Linked DNA regions of Homo sapiens. The protein of the gene in region 1 purifies or fractionates together with the protein of each later gene. This does not show direct contact. Each region holds a gene or a part of one and is shown on either strand. Other genes may lie near its edges.

Evidence for each region.
Region 2: the proteins of TLCD5 (region 1) and PLEKHB1 purify together in Homo sapiens (affinity purification with mass spectrometry; one large-scale study listed by BioGRID and IntAct). This does not show direct contact.
Region 3: the proteins of TLCD5 (region 1) and RHBDD1 purify together in Homo sapiens (affinity purification with mass spectrometry; one large-scale study listed by BioGRID and IntAct). This does not show direct contact.

The regions. Positions count from the first base shown.
Region 1 is NC_000011.10:120,323,666-120,327,416, reverse strand, and holds the start of TLCD5 (TLC domain-containing protein 5), read right to left. Parts: upstream 2,119-3,751; 5' UTR 2,049-2,118; intron 296-2,048; exon of another isoform or gene 42-295; coding exon of another isoform or gene 1-41.
Region 2 is NC_000011.10:73,652,992-73,656,642, forward strand, and holds part of PLEKHB1 (pleckstrin homology domain-containing family B member 1), read left to right. Parts: coding exon 1-23; intron 24-2,811; coding exon 2,812-2,916; intron 2,917-3,651.
Region 3 is NC_000002.12:226,859,925-226,863,575, forward strand, and holds part of RHBDD1 (rhomboid-related protein 4), read left to right. Parts: intron 1-3,651. UniProt on the Homo sapiens protein: Intramembrane-cleaving serine protease that cleaves single transmembrane or multi-pass membrane proteins in the hydrophobic plane of the membrane, luminal loops and juxtamembrane regions.

The DNA.
Region 1 (3,751 bases):
AAAAACAAAGGATGCACCCTAAGAAAACAGCACTGGGTCATTTTGTGTATATATCCTCATTTCTATTATAGAATAGTTCAAAAATATTGCCTTATCTTATTTTCCTTATCTACACGGCCAAGAATCTTCTATTTAAGTATGGCTGTATTTATCATTCCAAGTTCCTCAGAGATAACATGTTAGCAACTGGTCAATGTTGTAAACTGGAAACCAGGAACTGCACTCCGAGCTGGTAGGCTGACATCACATTTTATGATGAGTAAATGTCAATAATAACCCTCTAGCGATGACTGACCTTGGGCAATAATACACAGAAAATAAAGCACATGTATTAAATAATGTCTTCACAGTTCAAAAACCCCAATGAAACGCACTCATGAAAAAACAGAACACTGCCACGTTGGTTTCTGCTAGAGGTCACATGACACATGGCAGTTTAATGTGGTTTTAAGCTGATACTAAATTCAGCTGAGGTTTGGATTTGGGTCACAGGTTCATCAGTCAAAAACAAAACTTGGGATAAACTTAAATACAGAACTAAACAAAGAGTCCAGACATCTTGGAGGTTGGGGGGAAATCCTGGCTTTATTCAGTTCTGAAATCCGACCCAAAGATTTGCCAAGAGTGAAGCAGAAGGATTCTAAGGTTCAAGAGGAGGGGAGTTTTTGTTGAGATCTAAAAATATCCTTAAGGCAATTATTCAGTTAAAAATGAAATGAAGCCAGAAAGCTGTACCTTGGAACTTTTACTGGTGACAAATACGTTAGGACAAGAACAACTATAACTGAGTCAATTTAGTCACACAGGACTAAAATCTAAATGAGCAAGATGTTGTTATTAGTTAGTATTCATTAGCTCCTCCATTGAAACGTACAAATAAAAAGTCAAAAACATATCAGATATCTACTTCATCTCAGCAGACATTTTCTGCATGGCTATGCTTATTGCTTAACCTTATTCTGACCAGTGAAATAGTTATCTGTGGACGTCAATACACAAGCCACTTCCCAAGAATGCTATCCAGAGAGGGCTTCATGAAGGTCAAGTTCTGTACAGCTTTCATCTGAAATCAGATTTCCATTCAAGAAAACCGTAGGTGTCCATAATAGACCTGGGTTCCAATTCTGTCTCTGTCCCTAGAGAGACTAGCCATAAGAGTGTGGGCAAATCACTTTAACCTCTAGAACCACAGTTAAAAAAAAAAAGAAGAAATTAAAGAAAAGAAAAGAAGGAAGAGGAAGGGGAGGAAGGGAAAGGAAAGAAAGAGACTAGGACTGAAGAACTCTACAGTCCGGTCCAGTTCTGACATGGAGTTCTGAGATAAACTTTGTAAAACATCAAGGCCAATTCTCAGAGTAAGGGCCAGAAATACAAAGTATCCCAGGTGAAGAGAACTGCCCTCCCTTATCTCCTTCTAAAGGCCAGGGTCACTGGCCAGTAATGCGGATCAGCTCATTTGGATATGCCTATTAGTATTTTTAGAGTCTTCTTCTCTGAATCCTAATTCCTTGGCAGAACAGAGAAAACAGTAGCCCATTTACAAACACTTAAATAAAAGAACAGACATTCGTAAATGGCAGACACAACTCTGTGACCTTGGGAACTCCCTGTGTGGGTTTCGGCTTTTTGCTCTTGGTTTTTGCCAAAGAACGGAAGGGCATTTGGAAGGCCATCGCGGCTCAGAGGTCCAAGGCTCCTCTCCTGGTTTCTCCCGTTCCAGGGCCAGACTGGCGAGGAGGAGCCTTGGAGCAGGCGTGGCTGGCGGCGAGCGCGGGCCCCGGGGCCTCGCAGGGACGGCGATCGCATCTCCGCGCGGCGGTGCCTGCGACGCTCGGCCACGCCCGGACCAAGAGCCGGAGCCAGGCACCGTTATCCCCGCATCCCGCTGGCGCCGCAGCCTGGCGCAGGAAGGCCTCGGGCGTCCGAGGCAGGAGGAGGCCCGCTCCCCTTCGGAGGCGAGCCCGGGCCCTCTGCCGCCTCCTTCCCCACCAATGGGCCGCGCGGGCCCCGTGCCCACCCCGGCCGGGCAGTTCGCGCCGAGCGGTTACCTGGCGGAGCGCACCGGGAAGCCTCGGGCGCCCGGGCGCCCGCAGCTCCCGGCCCGGATCGCGGCAACAGGAAGCGGAGGAGCCAGAGGCGGAGGACGAGGCTGTGACGGCGGCGGAGGAGGAGCCGGGGGTCTGGGGGCACCTGCTGGCTGGGAGGATGGAGCGCAGAGCCGGAGCCGGGCCACCGACGCTCCGAAAGGGCGCGGGAGGGTCCTCCTTCTCTGGCGGGGGGGTCAAGAGGGATCTAGCGGTGACGTGAGACCTGGAGGCCGCTGCTCTTGTTTAGCTGTTGTTGTTTGTTTAAATCATTATCCACTTCTCCCCTCCCCTCAATGGGACAGCTCATCCAATCAATTTATCGAGTACCTACTAAGTACTTGCACCCTTACTAGGCATTGTGGGGGATGTAAGACATCGTTCTTGCCCTCGTGCTTGAATTTAAGTCGTGAAACAGGAATTGATGAGCAGGAAAGTGCTCAGGCCTGAGAATTAGAAGTTACAGTATTCCAGTCAGCCCTGTAACCAACTTGACAGTAAAGCATAAGGCTTGAAAGTGAACCTTGCTTGGTACCTCTTTGGGCAAGTTACTTTTCTGTTGCCTCCCTTTCCTCGATCCTGAGGATGGGGATAGTAATAACACCTATCTCATATGGTTATTTTGAGAATTTTAAAATATTACATGTGTAAAGTGCTTTGAACAATGACTGGCACATGGAAGTCACTACATAAATACCAACTGTTTTATTTCACTTTGGGTAAATCCTTTTCTTCTCTGGTTCTATTTTAATACCAAGCAGAGTAAGTTTGAGCGATAAGAATGGAGGCTCGAATGGGGTAAAGACGGTGTCTGTCTTGATTGATCAGGACAGGCAATCCCGGGTGCTGAGGAACCTAGACATTCTCAAAGGAGAAGACCGTTAGCAGAGGTGTGAGTGTTTAGGCCGTGCCTGGGGAATAGTAAATATTCTAGTTTTGGTCATTTATCTTACCAACTCTTCAAAGGTAAGGATGGCACTGGTTTCATCTTTGTTTCCCTAGTACCTAGCATGAGGCAGGTACAATAAATGTTTGTATGTTGAATTAATGTGAAATGAGCCTGGGAAACTATCTTGGAAGCATATCACAGTTCCTAAAGTGTGTTGATCAACTATGCCACTTGGGAAGTGTTTTCAAATACCCTGTGCAGGCTGTACCTTGAATATTATGATTTATTAGGTCTGGTATGGGGTCCAGGGATCTGTATTTTTTAAAACCTGCCCAGGAGTCATTCAGACGATCACATTTGATAACCATTGCTGTTAGAGTCCTTAAATGCCTCTGATGCCAGCCTAAGATGCCAGGCTGAGAGAGCTTATTATGTGGAAGCTCATGATGTTATTGAACAAGGGAATCATATTATCATGCTCTCCAAGCCCTTGCTACTCAAAGTGTGGTCTATGGACCAGCAAAATCTGCATCACCTTGGAGTTCATTAGAGACTCAGAATCTCAGAACCTACCCCTGGACCTACCAAACTAGAATGTGCATTTTAACAAGTTCCCCAGTGATTCGTATACACATTTGGGTCGTAGTTCTTAATCTTGATAGCATGGTAGTATCACTTGGGAGCTATTTAAAATCCTAATACCCAGGGCACACTCCGAAAAAAGTAAATCAGAATCTCTGTGTAGATATCAATCAATTTAAAAGCTCCCTGGGTGATT
Region 2 (3,651 bases), about 47 Mb from region 1:
TGCTGGAGGCAAACTCCACCCCGGTGAGTCTCCCGTTCTCTCCCCCTTTCCCCACCACCTCCATGTGCCATGGAATCATGAGTGACTCAGACTCGGTCTCCACCTGCCAGAAGTTCTCAGTCTTATGTGGATAGGTTTCTGCAAACTCTGATGCCTGAGTCCCAAGTGTTCGGGGAAAGGATAAGGGAGAGCCAACTGGTGCTCAGAGGAGAGAGAGAAGCCTCCATGGAGATTTGCTGGAGGGAGTGGCACATGAGCTGGGGAGAAGGAACTGTCTTTTATCGAGCAACTATTATGTGCCAGGTGTGGTGCAGGTATCATTCCAGCTGCTCCTCACAACAGTCCTGTGAAGTTGGGGTTATTGTTCTCTCTCTGCAGATGATAAGACTGAAGCTCATTCATCCGCACAACAAATATTTACTGAGCTGCTACTATGGGCCAGGTGGTGTGCCAAGTGCCAGGGATCAGAGGTGAACCAAGGAGATATGGGCTCTGCCCACCTGGACTCAGCCTAATGAGAAGCCAGACATGGAACAACTAATTAATTATTCCATTTCAATAGTAATAACAGCTCTGACAGAGATTTGCAGTGTCTGGCCCTTTCATCCAGGTGGTAGTTCAGGCAAGGCTTAAACCGAGGACTGAAGGATAAACAGAAATTGACTGGGTGAAAGGTGTGGGGATCGGGTAAAGGGCACGGCATTCCAGGCAGAGGGATCAGCATGTGCCAAGGCTCTGAGAGAGGTTAAGACATTTGGCAAGTTGAGGAACAGAAGGACAGCTGGGGTGGCTGGTGCTTAGGGAGTGAGTGGGTAAGGAGGGAAGGAGGGTTGGCACGACCAGGTCTTGTGGGCTGTATGAAGGATGTTGGTTTCTGCTAAGAGCACCAGGGAGCCATGACAAGTTTTTGAACAGAGGGATGGCATGATCAGATCAGGTTCAATTTATATTTTTAAAAAGATAATTGTTGTAACGTTGGGGCATGTAAAAAAAAGGGGGTAGTCTGTCAGTTTATGAAATTTTGTTGTAGAAAAAAGGAAAAAAAAAAAGATAGTCTGGCTGGTAGGTAGGGAATGGATTATAGAGGGTAACTGCAGACACCCAGAGGCCACTTAGGAGGCTGGGACAGTGTCCGGGCAACAGACTGGAGATCTGGATTAAGGCCTTGTTGGCCGAGACAGGCTGATGAGTACAGGACATATTTAGGAGATGGAGTCAACAGAGCTTGTGACTGATGGAAGTGGCGGTTTGAAGAGCCGCCCAAAGCCCAGCTTGGCCTCCACCCCCATCTGCCTGACTCCAGAATCTGTGCTTGCTCTTTCTCTGTATGGCACAATGGAGCCCCCTCTCACCTATAGAGAAAGTCCGTTGGGAAGTAGCAGGGGAGACCTGGATGCATTTAGAAACCTCCTCAGGCATCCACGTCCTGAGTGCCAGGCATCATGCTAAGCCCCTGGCAGCAGTGACATCATTTCATCTTCCAACAACCCTGGCAGGGCAGCTGGGTGGGGGTTGGTATTATTAGTCCCATTTTACAGATAAGGAAGCCGAGGTTCAGAGAGGGGAGGTGACTTGTCCAAAGCTTATACTCTTAAGTCAGTGGAAAAGCCTACCATGGAACCTAGGTCAGTGAGATTTTGAGAGGAGGGCGTTATCTGCAGAAGTAGCTGCATGAGCAGAGACAGAGAAGTGATGTGTGCACATGTGTGTGTGCACAAGTGCTTATGCACATATGCATGCGTCTAAGGGCCCAGAGTCTGCCTGGCTGGAGAGCAATTCATGAGGCGAATGAAACAGGAGAGATGACCTCTGAGGTCATCGGGGCCAGCTCATGATGGGCCTCAAAGTCCAGTTGGAAGAAATGGACTTTCCCTGAGGCCTGTAGGGAGCAATAAAGGGCATTCAGCAGCGAGGGCTGTGGTCAGATTTTGGGGAGCAGACTCAGGCTTCCAAGTGGCGGGTGAATTGGAGAAAGCTGGGAGTAAGGAGGCTACAGCAGTAGTCTGCAGGGTGGAGGGACCCAGGTCAGGCTACCCTGGCTCTGAGCTCCAAAGCCTCTTTATGTGGGGCAAGTCAGTTCCACCAAAGAGAGGCGGAGGGAAGGAGGCAAGGGTGACTGTCTGCACTCTGTGACTCTATGAAGCGGCCTCGTCCTTCTCTGCCTGTCCATCTCCTGTGGCTCTGCTGACCCTTCTCTCTGCCCTGGCCTCTATTCTACCTCCCACTACTCCACATATACACGTCCTTCTGTGCCCGGGCTTACTAGAGTCGGGGTGTATTTGTGCCTGTGTCTACCTATCTTTGTGTGTTCACCTCTGTTTATGGGCTTCTCTCTGTAGCCTGTGTGGGAATGACCTGCCCTTTGTCCTCCGACATGCTGGAGTTCATACCTCACTCCAGGTGGAGGCTCCAGGAGCCCCTAACACCAGCTTTACTGGGAACACAGGGCCTGGGGGCACAGCTAGGGACGAGGCTGGGGTGAAGCGGACCAGGTGGGCTAGAGGACAGAAGGGAGTCGCCCTGTCCTCCCTGGAGACTGGGAACCCCAGCAGGATGAAATAGGGGAGGGTGGGCTAATTCTGGAAAGAGACTACTTGTCCTTCTTTTCTGCGTAACTTTGGCAGTCATCAGCATTCTCTGAGCCTCCCCCGTTACCATGAGCTGAGGAGAAAGAGGATGCTCCCTGCCACAGCCCAGCTGGCGGAGGGCTCTGGTAGGGTCTGGAAAGAGCTCTTGAGTCTCTTTAGGTGTAGAGGGCCTCTGACACCCCCTCCCTCCCTCCTCCTTCTTGGGTTTCTGTGGCTTGAGCAGGCCCCAGCTGGAGCCACCGTCCCTCCCAGGAGCCGCCGGGTTTGCTCCAAGGTCAGGTGTGTGACCCGCTCGTGGAGCCCCTGTAAGGTTGAGAGGCGGATCTGGGTAAGTGCTGGCTCGGCCCTCCCTGCCTCCATACTGGCCACCAGGATGAGCCTCCAAAACCAGGCCCAGTCCATCCCTTCCCTGTGACAAACATTCCATGGCTCCCTATCACCCACAGGACACAAACCAGCTGCTCTGCTGTACCCTCTGTCCCCAGCCACACCAGACCTTTTCCCTCTGCCAGCCTTCGCACATGCTGTTCCCTCTGCTGACAAGACCTCAGTTTCCTCATTCACCTGACAAACTGATGCTCATCCTGTAAGGCCCACCTCAAAGGCTGCCTGCCACCTACTCAGTGGGGACTTCCTAGACCACTAGGCATCGTCATTCCCTCCCTCAGCCTAGCGGCACCAAGGCTTAGTGCTTTCTTCATTCTGCCTGGTTTCAGAGCTGGTTTATTCCTGTCTGTGTAGTCTTCCATGAGGCCTAGAACTTCCTCCAAGGCAAGAATGAGGCCTGATTGCGCTGCCTCTATGGAACTTGGCACAAGGCTAGGTAAATGGCACATGCTCAATTAGTGCTCGATGATGGGGAGTCTATGCTGACCTTTCTTACACAGTGGGGCTCAGGGAATGTTCACTGAGTGAGCAAAGGAAGGAAGGAGGGAGTGAAAAACTTCCTTTATAGCAATACTACTACATAGTCTAATTTAGTCTAGGTCTGTCTCCCCTCACCCTCAATGTTTCTTGAAGGCAGGATCTGGCCTGAATCTTTTCTCTGTCCCCAGAACTCAGC
Region 3 (3,651 bases), on another chromosome or scaffold:
GGTTGGATTTTATGGTAATCAGGCAAGCTGTGATGGTGACCCAGACTAGAGTAGTAGCCCTAGAGCTAGAAAGAAGTAGATTGATAAAAAAAAACTGTTTGGAAGAATTAATAAAACTTGATGGATAGGATTTGGGGGTAGCAGGGTGATAAGGTTAAGGTCAAAAGACATGTCAAGGATCTTTCTATGTCTTTGGCTTGAACAACTGGATAGATGGAAATCCCATGTCTTGAGGTGGGGTGCATGAGAGGAGGAGCTGATTTGGAAGGGACAGTCCAGTGTTCAGCTTGGGGCATGTTGAGTCTGGTGGGGAGGGTGTGTTTGTAAGGTAAGGGAGCACAGGGACTGGCCTTTCTTGAACTCTGGTAACTGGCTTGTGGTCTGGATACAAGTTAGAATAATACATAAACCATTTCCAAAACCCAACAGATTTTACAGGTTTTCAGTTCACAGATAAGTTGCTATAATTGATGTTGCCTCTGTGGTCTTTCAGATAGCACAGCACTCTAAAAATTTCTATGTATTTGATGGGCATGACATTAACAATATTCATTTTATAGTCAGTGCTCACTTATTGTGATCTGTCTTCCTTGGTGTTCCTAGAGCCGTGCCTCCCTGGCCCACAGCGTCAGGTTACAGATTTGATCTTTACATGGATCAGTTGGATTTTCTAAGTTGTCTTGTGACAGGTTGCATCCCTCACCTTGGATGGCTGACTTGGTAACTGATTAGGAAGGAAACTGCCCTAGAGTTGTTATGAACTAGGACTGATTGGTCTTTGCTACTACTTAAGACTCAAAACGTATGTTCTACCTACACTGGGACTCTAATGGCCTTTGTTTACAAAGGTGGAGCCCAAAAGACGGGCACTTCTCACATTGGCTATGGTTATATCTCCTTTCGCATTAAGTATACATTTACTGAGAAGCCAAGCCACACAATTTTACTTCTCTTTTGATTTCCTGTGGACAATATTTTTATTTCCTTCAACAAATAGAAGTAGGCCATTTAGAGGCTGGGAATATAAGTGTTTTGTTATTTGCTGTACCTCCAGTGCCTGGCACAGGGACTGGCATGCATATGGCACTTGATACATGTTTATTAAATACATGAGTGAAAGAAGGAATGGCTGAATCATCATTCTGTGAGAAAGGATAATTCAGTTTTCAGAAACCAAGACATCAGGCAAACTATATCTTCTTCTAAGATTACGTCCCTGAAACCTGAGAAATCAAAGCTGAAAAATAGAAATTTGGGCATCATCCTGATAAAAAGAATTACAAAAATCATTAAAGTGGAAGCCCTTGAGTGTGTGCAGGAGAGAGTAGGGATAGAGGAGAAGTGAACAGCAGAGAAACGGGTTGGAAGGAGGAGTGAAGCCTCAGGAGAGCAAGGTGTCCCACAGAAGCAGGAGCAGTCAACAGTGGAGAGCTGGGAGGTGCGAAGGGATGCAGACAGAAAGACACCTTTTCATCCAGCCAGAAGTAACTCAGGAAAGTGCAATCAGAGCCTGGGACACAGTGTGAAGTAAGACTGGGAATTCTGTCCTTTTATCTATATTCTTCATTACTAATGATTGTAATTGAGGGGCAAGTTTTTCTTGAGCAAAGATGTAGTTAGTTTTGATTTTCTGCTACATAAAGCCCAGCATCATAAGACACTGTTGGCAATGATATTGAAGGGTTTATTTTGTGATTTCTTGTAAGCTGATTATTTACTGATCAATGATCAAGGCCAGTTTTTCCATTGTTCCTGTTAAAGGTAATAATGTTTGATATATGTAACATAAATATTTCTGTGTGTGTGTGTGGGCACACGTGTGCACACATATTGATAAATTTAGGAGAATTACAAAAAAGTTACGGTAGGTAAAGAGTTGAAAGTTGACTTGAGTTCTAATGTGAAAAATATAGGCCATTTATCCAAAGTTATGTGGGAGCATTTCAGTTTAAATTTCATTAAATTCTCTAGTTCATAAGAATGCTACAGAGCTACAATAATAACAATATAGAAACGGGTTGTGCTAATACATGGGGTTTTGCCAATAATGTGTGTGTGCATGCACGTGTATGTATATGGCTAATTTTGTGTGTGTATGCATACACATATATATATACACATGCATAATTTTTTTCTGAACATTGTTTTGGTGTGATGTTGATAATAAGAATCCATATGGGGGCATAGGAGTACATTTGAGTCTTTTTAGGATGTTACCATTTGCAAAGGAATTAATTCTCACATAAGTAAGTTTACTTTATAGAAATGAAAGTAGTAGCTACTGTTTATTCTGCATCTCTTTTGTTCCAAGCATGTCACAGTAATCCTGGGAAGGAGGTTTTATGTTTCTTAAAGGGAGGAAATTGAAGTTCAGAAAGTTTAAATGATTTGCCCCAGGTCACAGAGCTAGAAGATAGGAGAATCCTGCCTTTTTTTTTTTTTTTTTTAACTCTAAAACTCATGCATTGTCCAGTGTGCAGTCCAAGTTAGAATCCTTAGGGTATTAGAGTGAGTTACCTGTTTGGTTGGGGGCCAATTAATCTCCACAGAGAAAGCAGAAACCATTAGATGAGAACTTTTTCAACATTTTGCCCCTAATAGCTACACCTGATTTTTCTTTTCTTTCTGTTAAGAGGAAAAGACTCTTCCCTCCAAGCACTTGATCCTTTTTATTTATCTCTTGCATCTTTAGTCTGTGTCTCTGCCTGCATCTCTTCCCTTACTAGCTTCTTCTCATGAGCATGAAACAGTCCCTCCCTGGCTTAGTCCGTTTAGGGTTGCTATAAATACCTGAGTCTGAGTAATTTATAAAGAAAAGAGGTCTATTTAGCTCACAGTTCTACTGGCTGTAAAGTTCAAGATTGAGCATCTGGTGGGGGCCTCAGGCCATTTCCATTTGCGGTGAAAGGTGAAGGGGAGCTAGCATGTGCAGAGATCATGTGATGAGAGAGGAAGCAAGGGAGTGGGGAGGTGCCAGTCTCTTTTAACAACCAGCACTGGCAGGAACTAATAAGAGTGAGAACTCACTCATCCCCTGACCCCAGGGAGGGCATTCATCTTTTCATGAGGGATATTCCCCCATGACCCAAACACCTCCCATTAGGCTCTACTTCCAATACTGGGGATCGGATTTCAACATGAGGCCGGGCCTAGTGGCTCATGCCTGTAATCCCAGCACTTTGGGAGGCTGAGGCAGACGGATCACCTGAGGTCAGGAGTTTGAGACCAGCCTGACCAACACGGTGACACCTAGTCTCTACTAAAAATAGCCAGGCATGGTGACACATGCCTGTAATCCCAGCTACTCAGGAGGCTGAGGCATAAGAATCATTTGCACCCAGGAGGTGGAGGTGGCAGTGAGCCAAGATCATGCCATTGCACTCCAGCCTGGGCTACAGAGTGAGATTCTGGCTCTAAATAAATAAATACATTCATTCATTCATTCAACATGAGGTTTTGGAGGGACAAACACCTAAACCACAGCACTCGCGAAAGGCAATACCTTCTGTATTAGTTAGTAGTTGTTGCATAACAAACCACTCCAAAGCTCAGTGAAGTAAACCAAGTACCATTTATTTAGCTCACTGTTTTGTGGGTCAGCAAATTAGGCTGGGCTCAGCGAGACTCACTTGTATACCTGTGGTCAGCTAG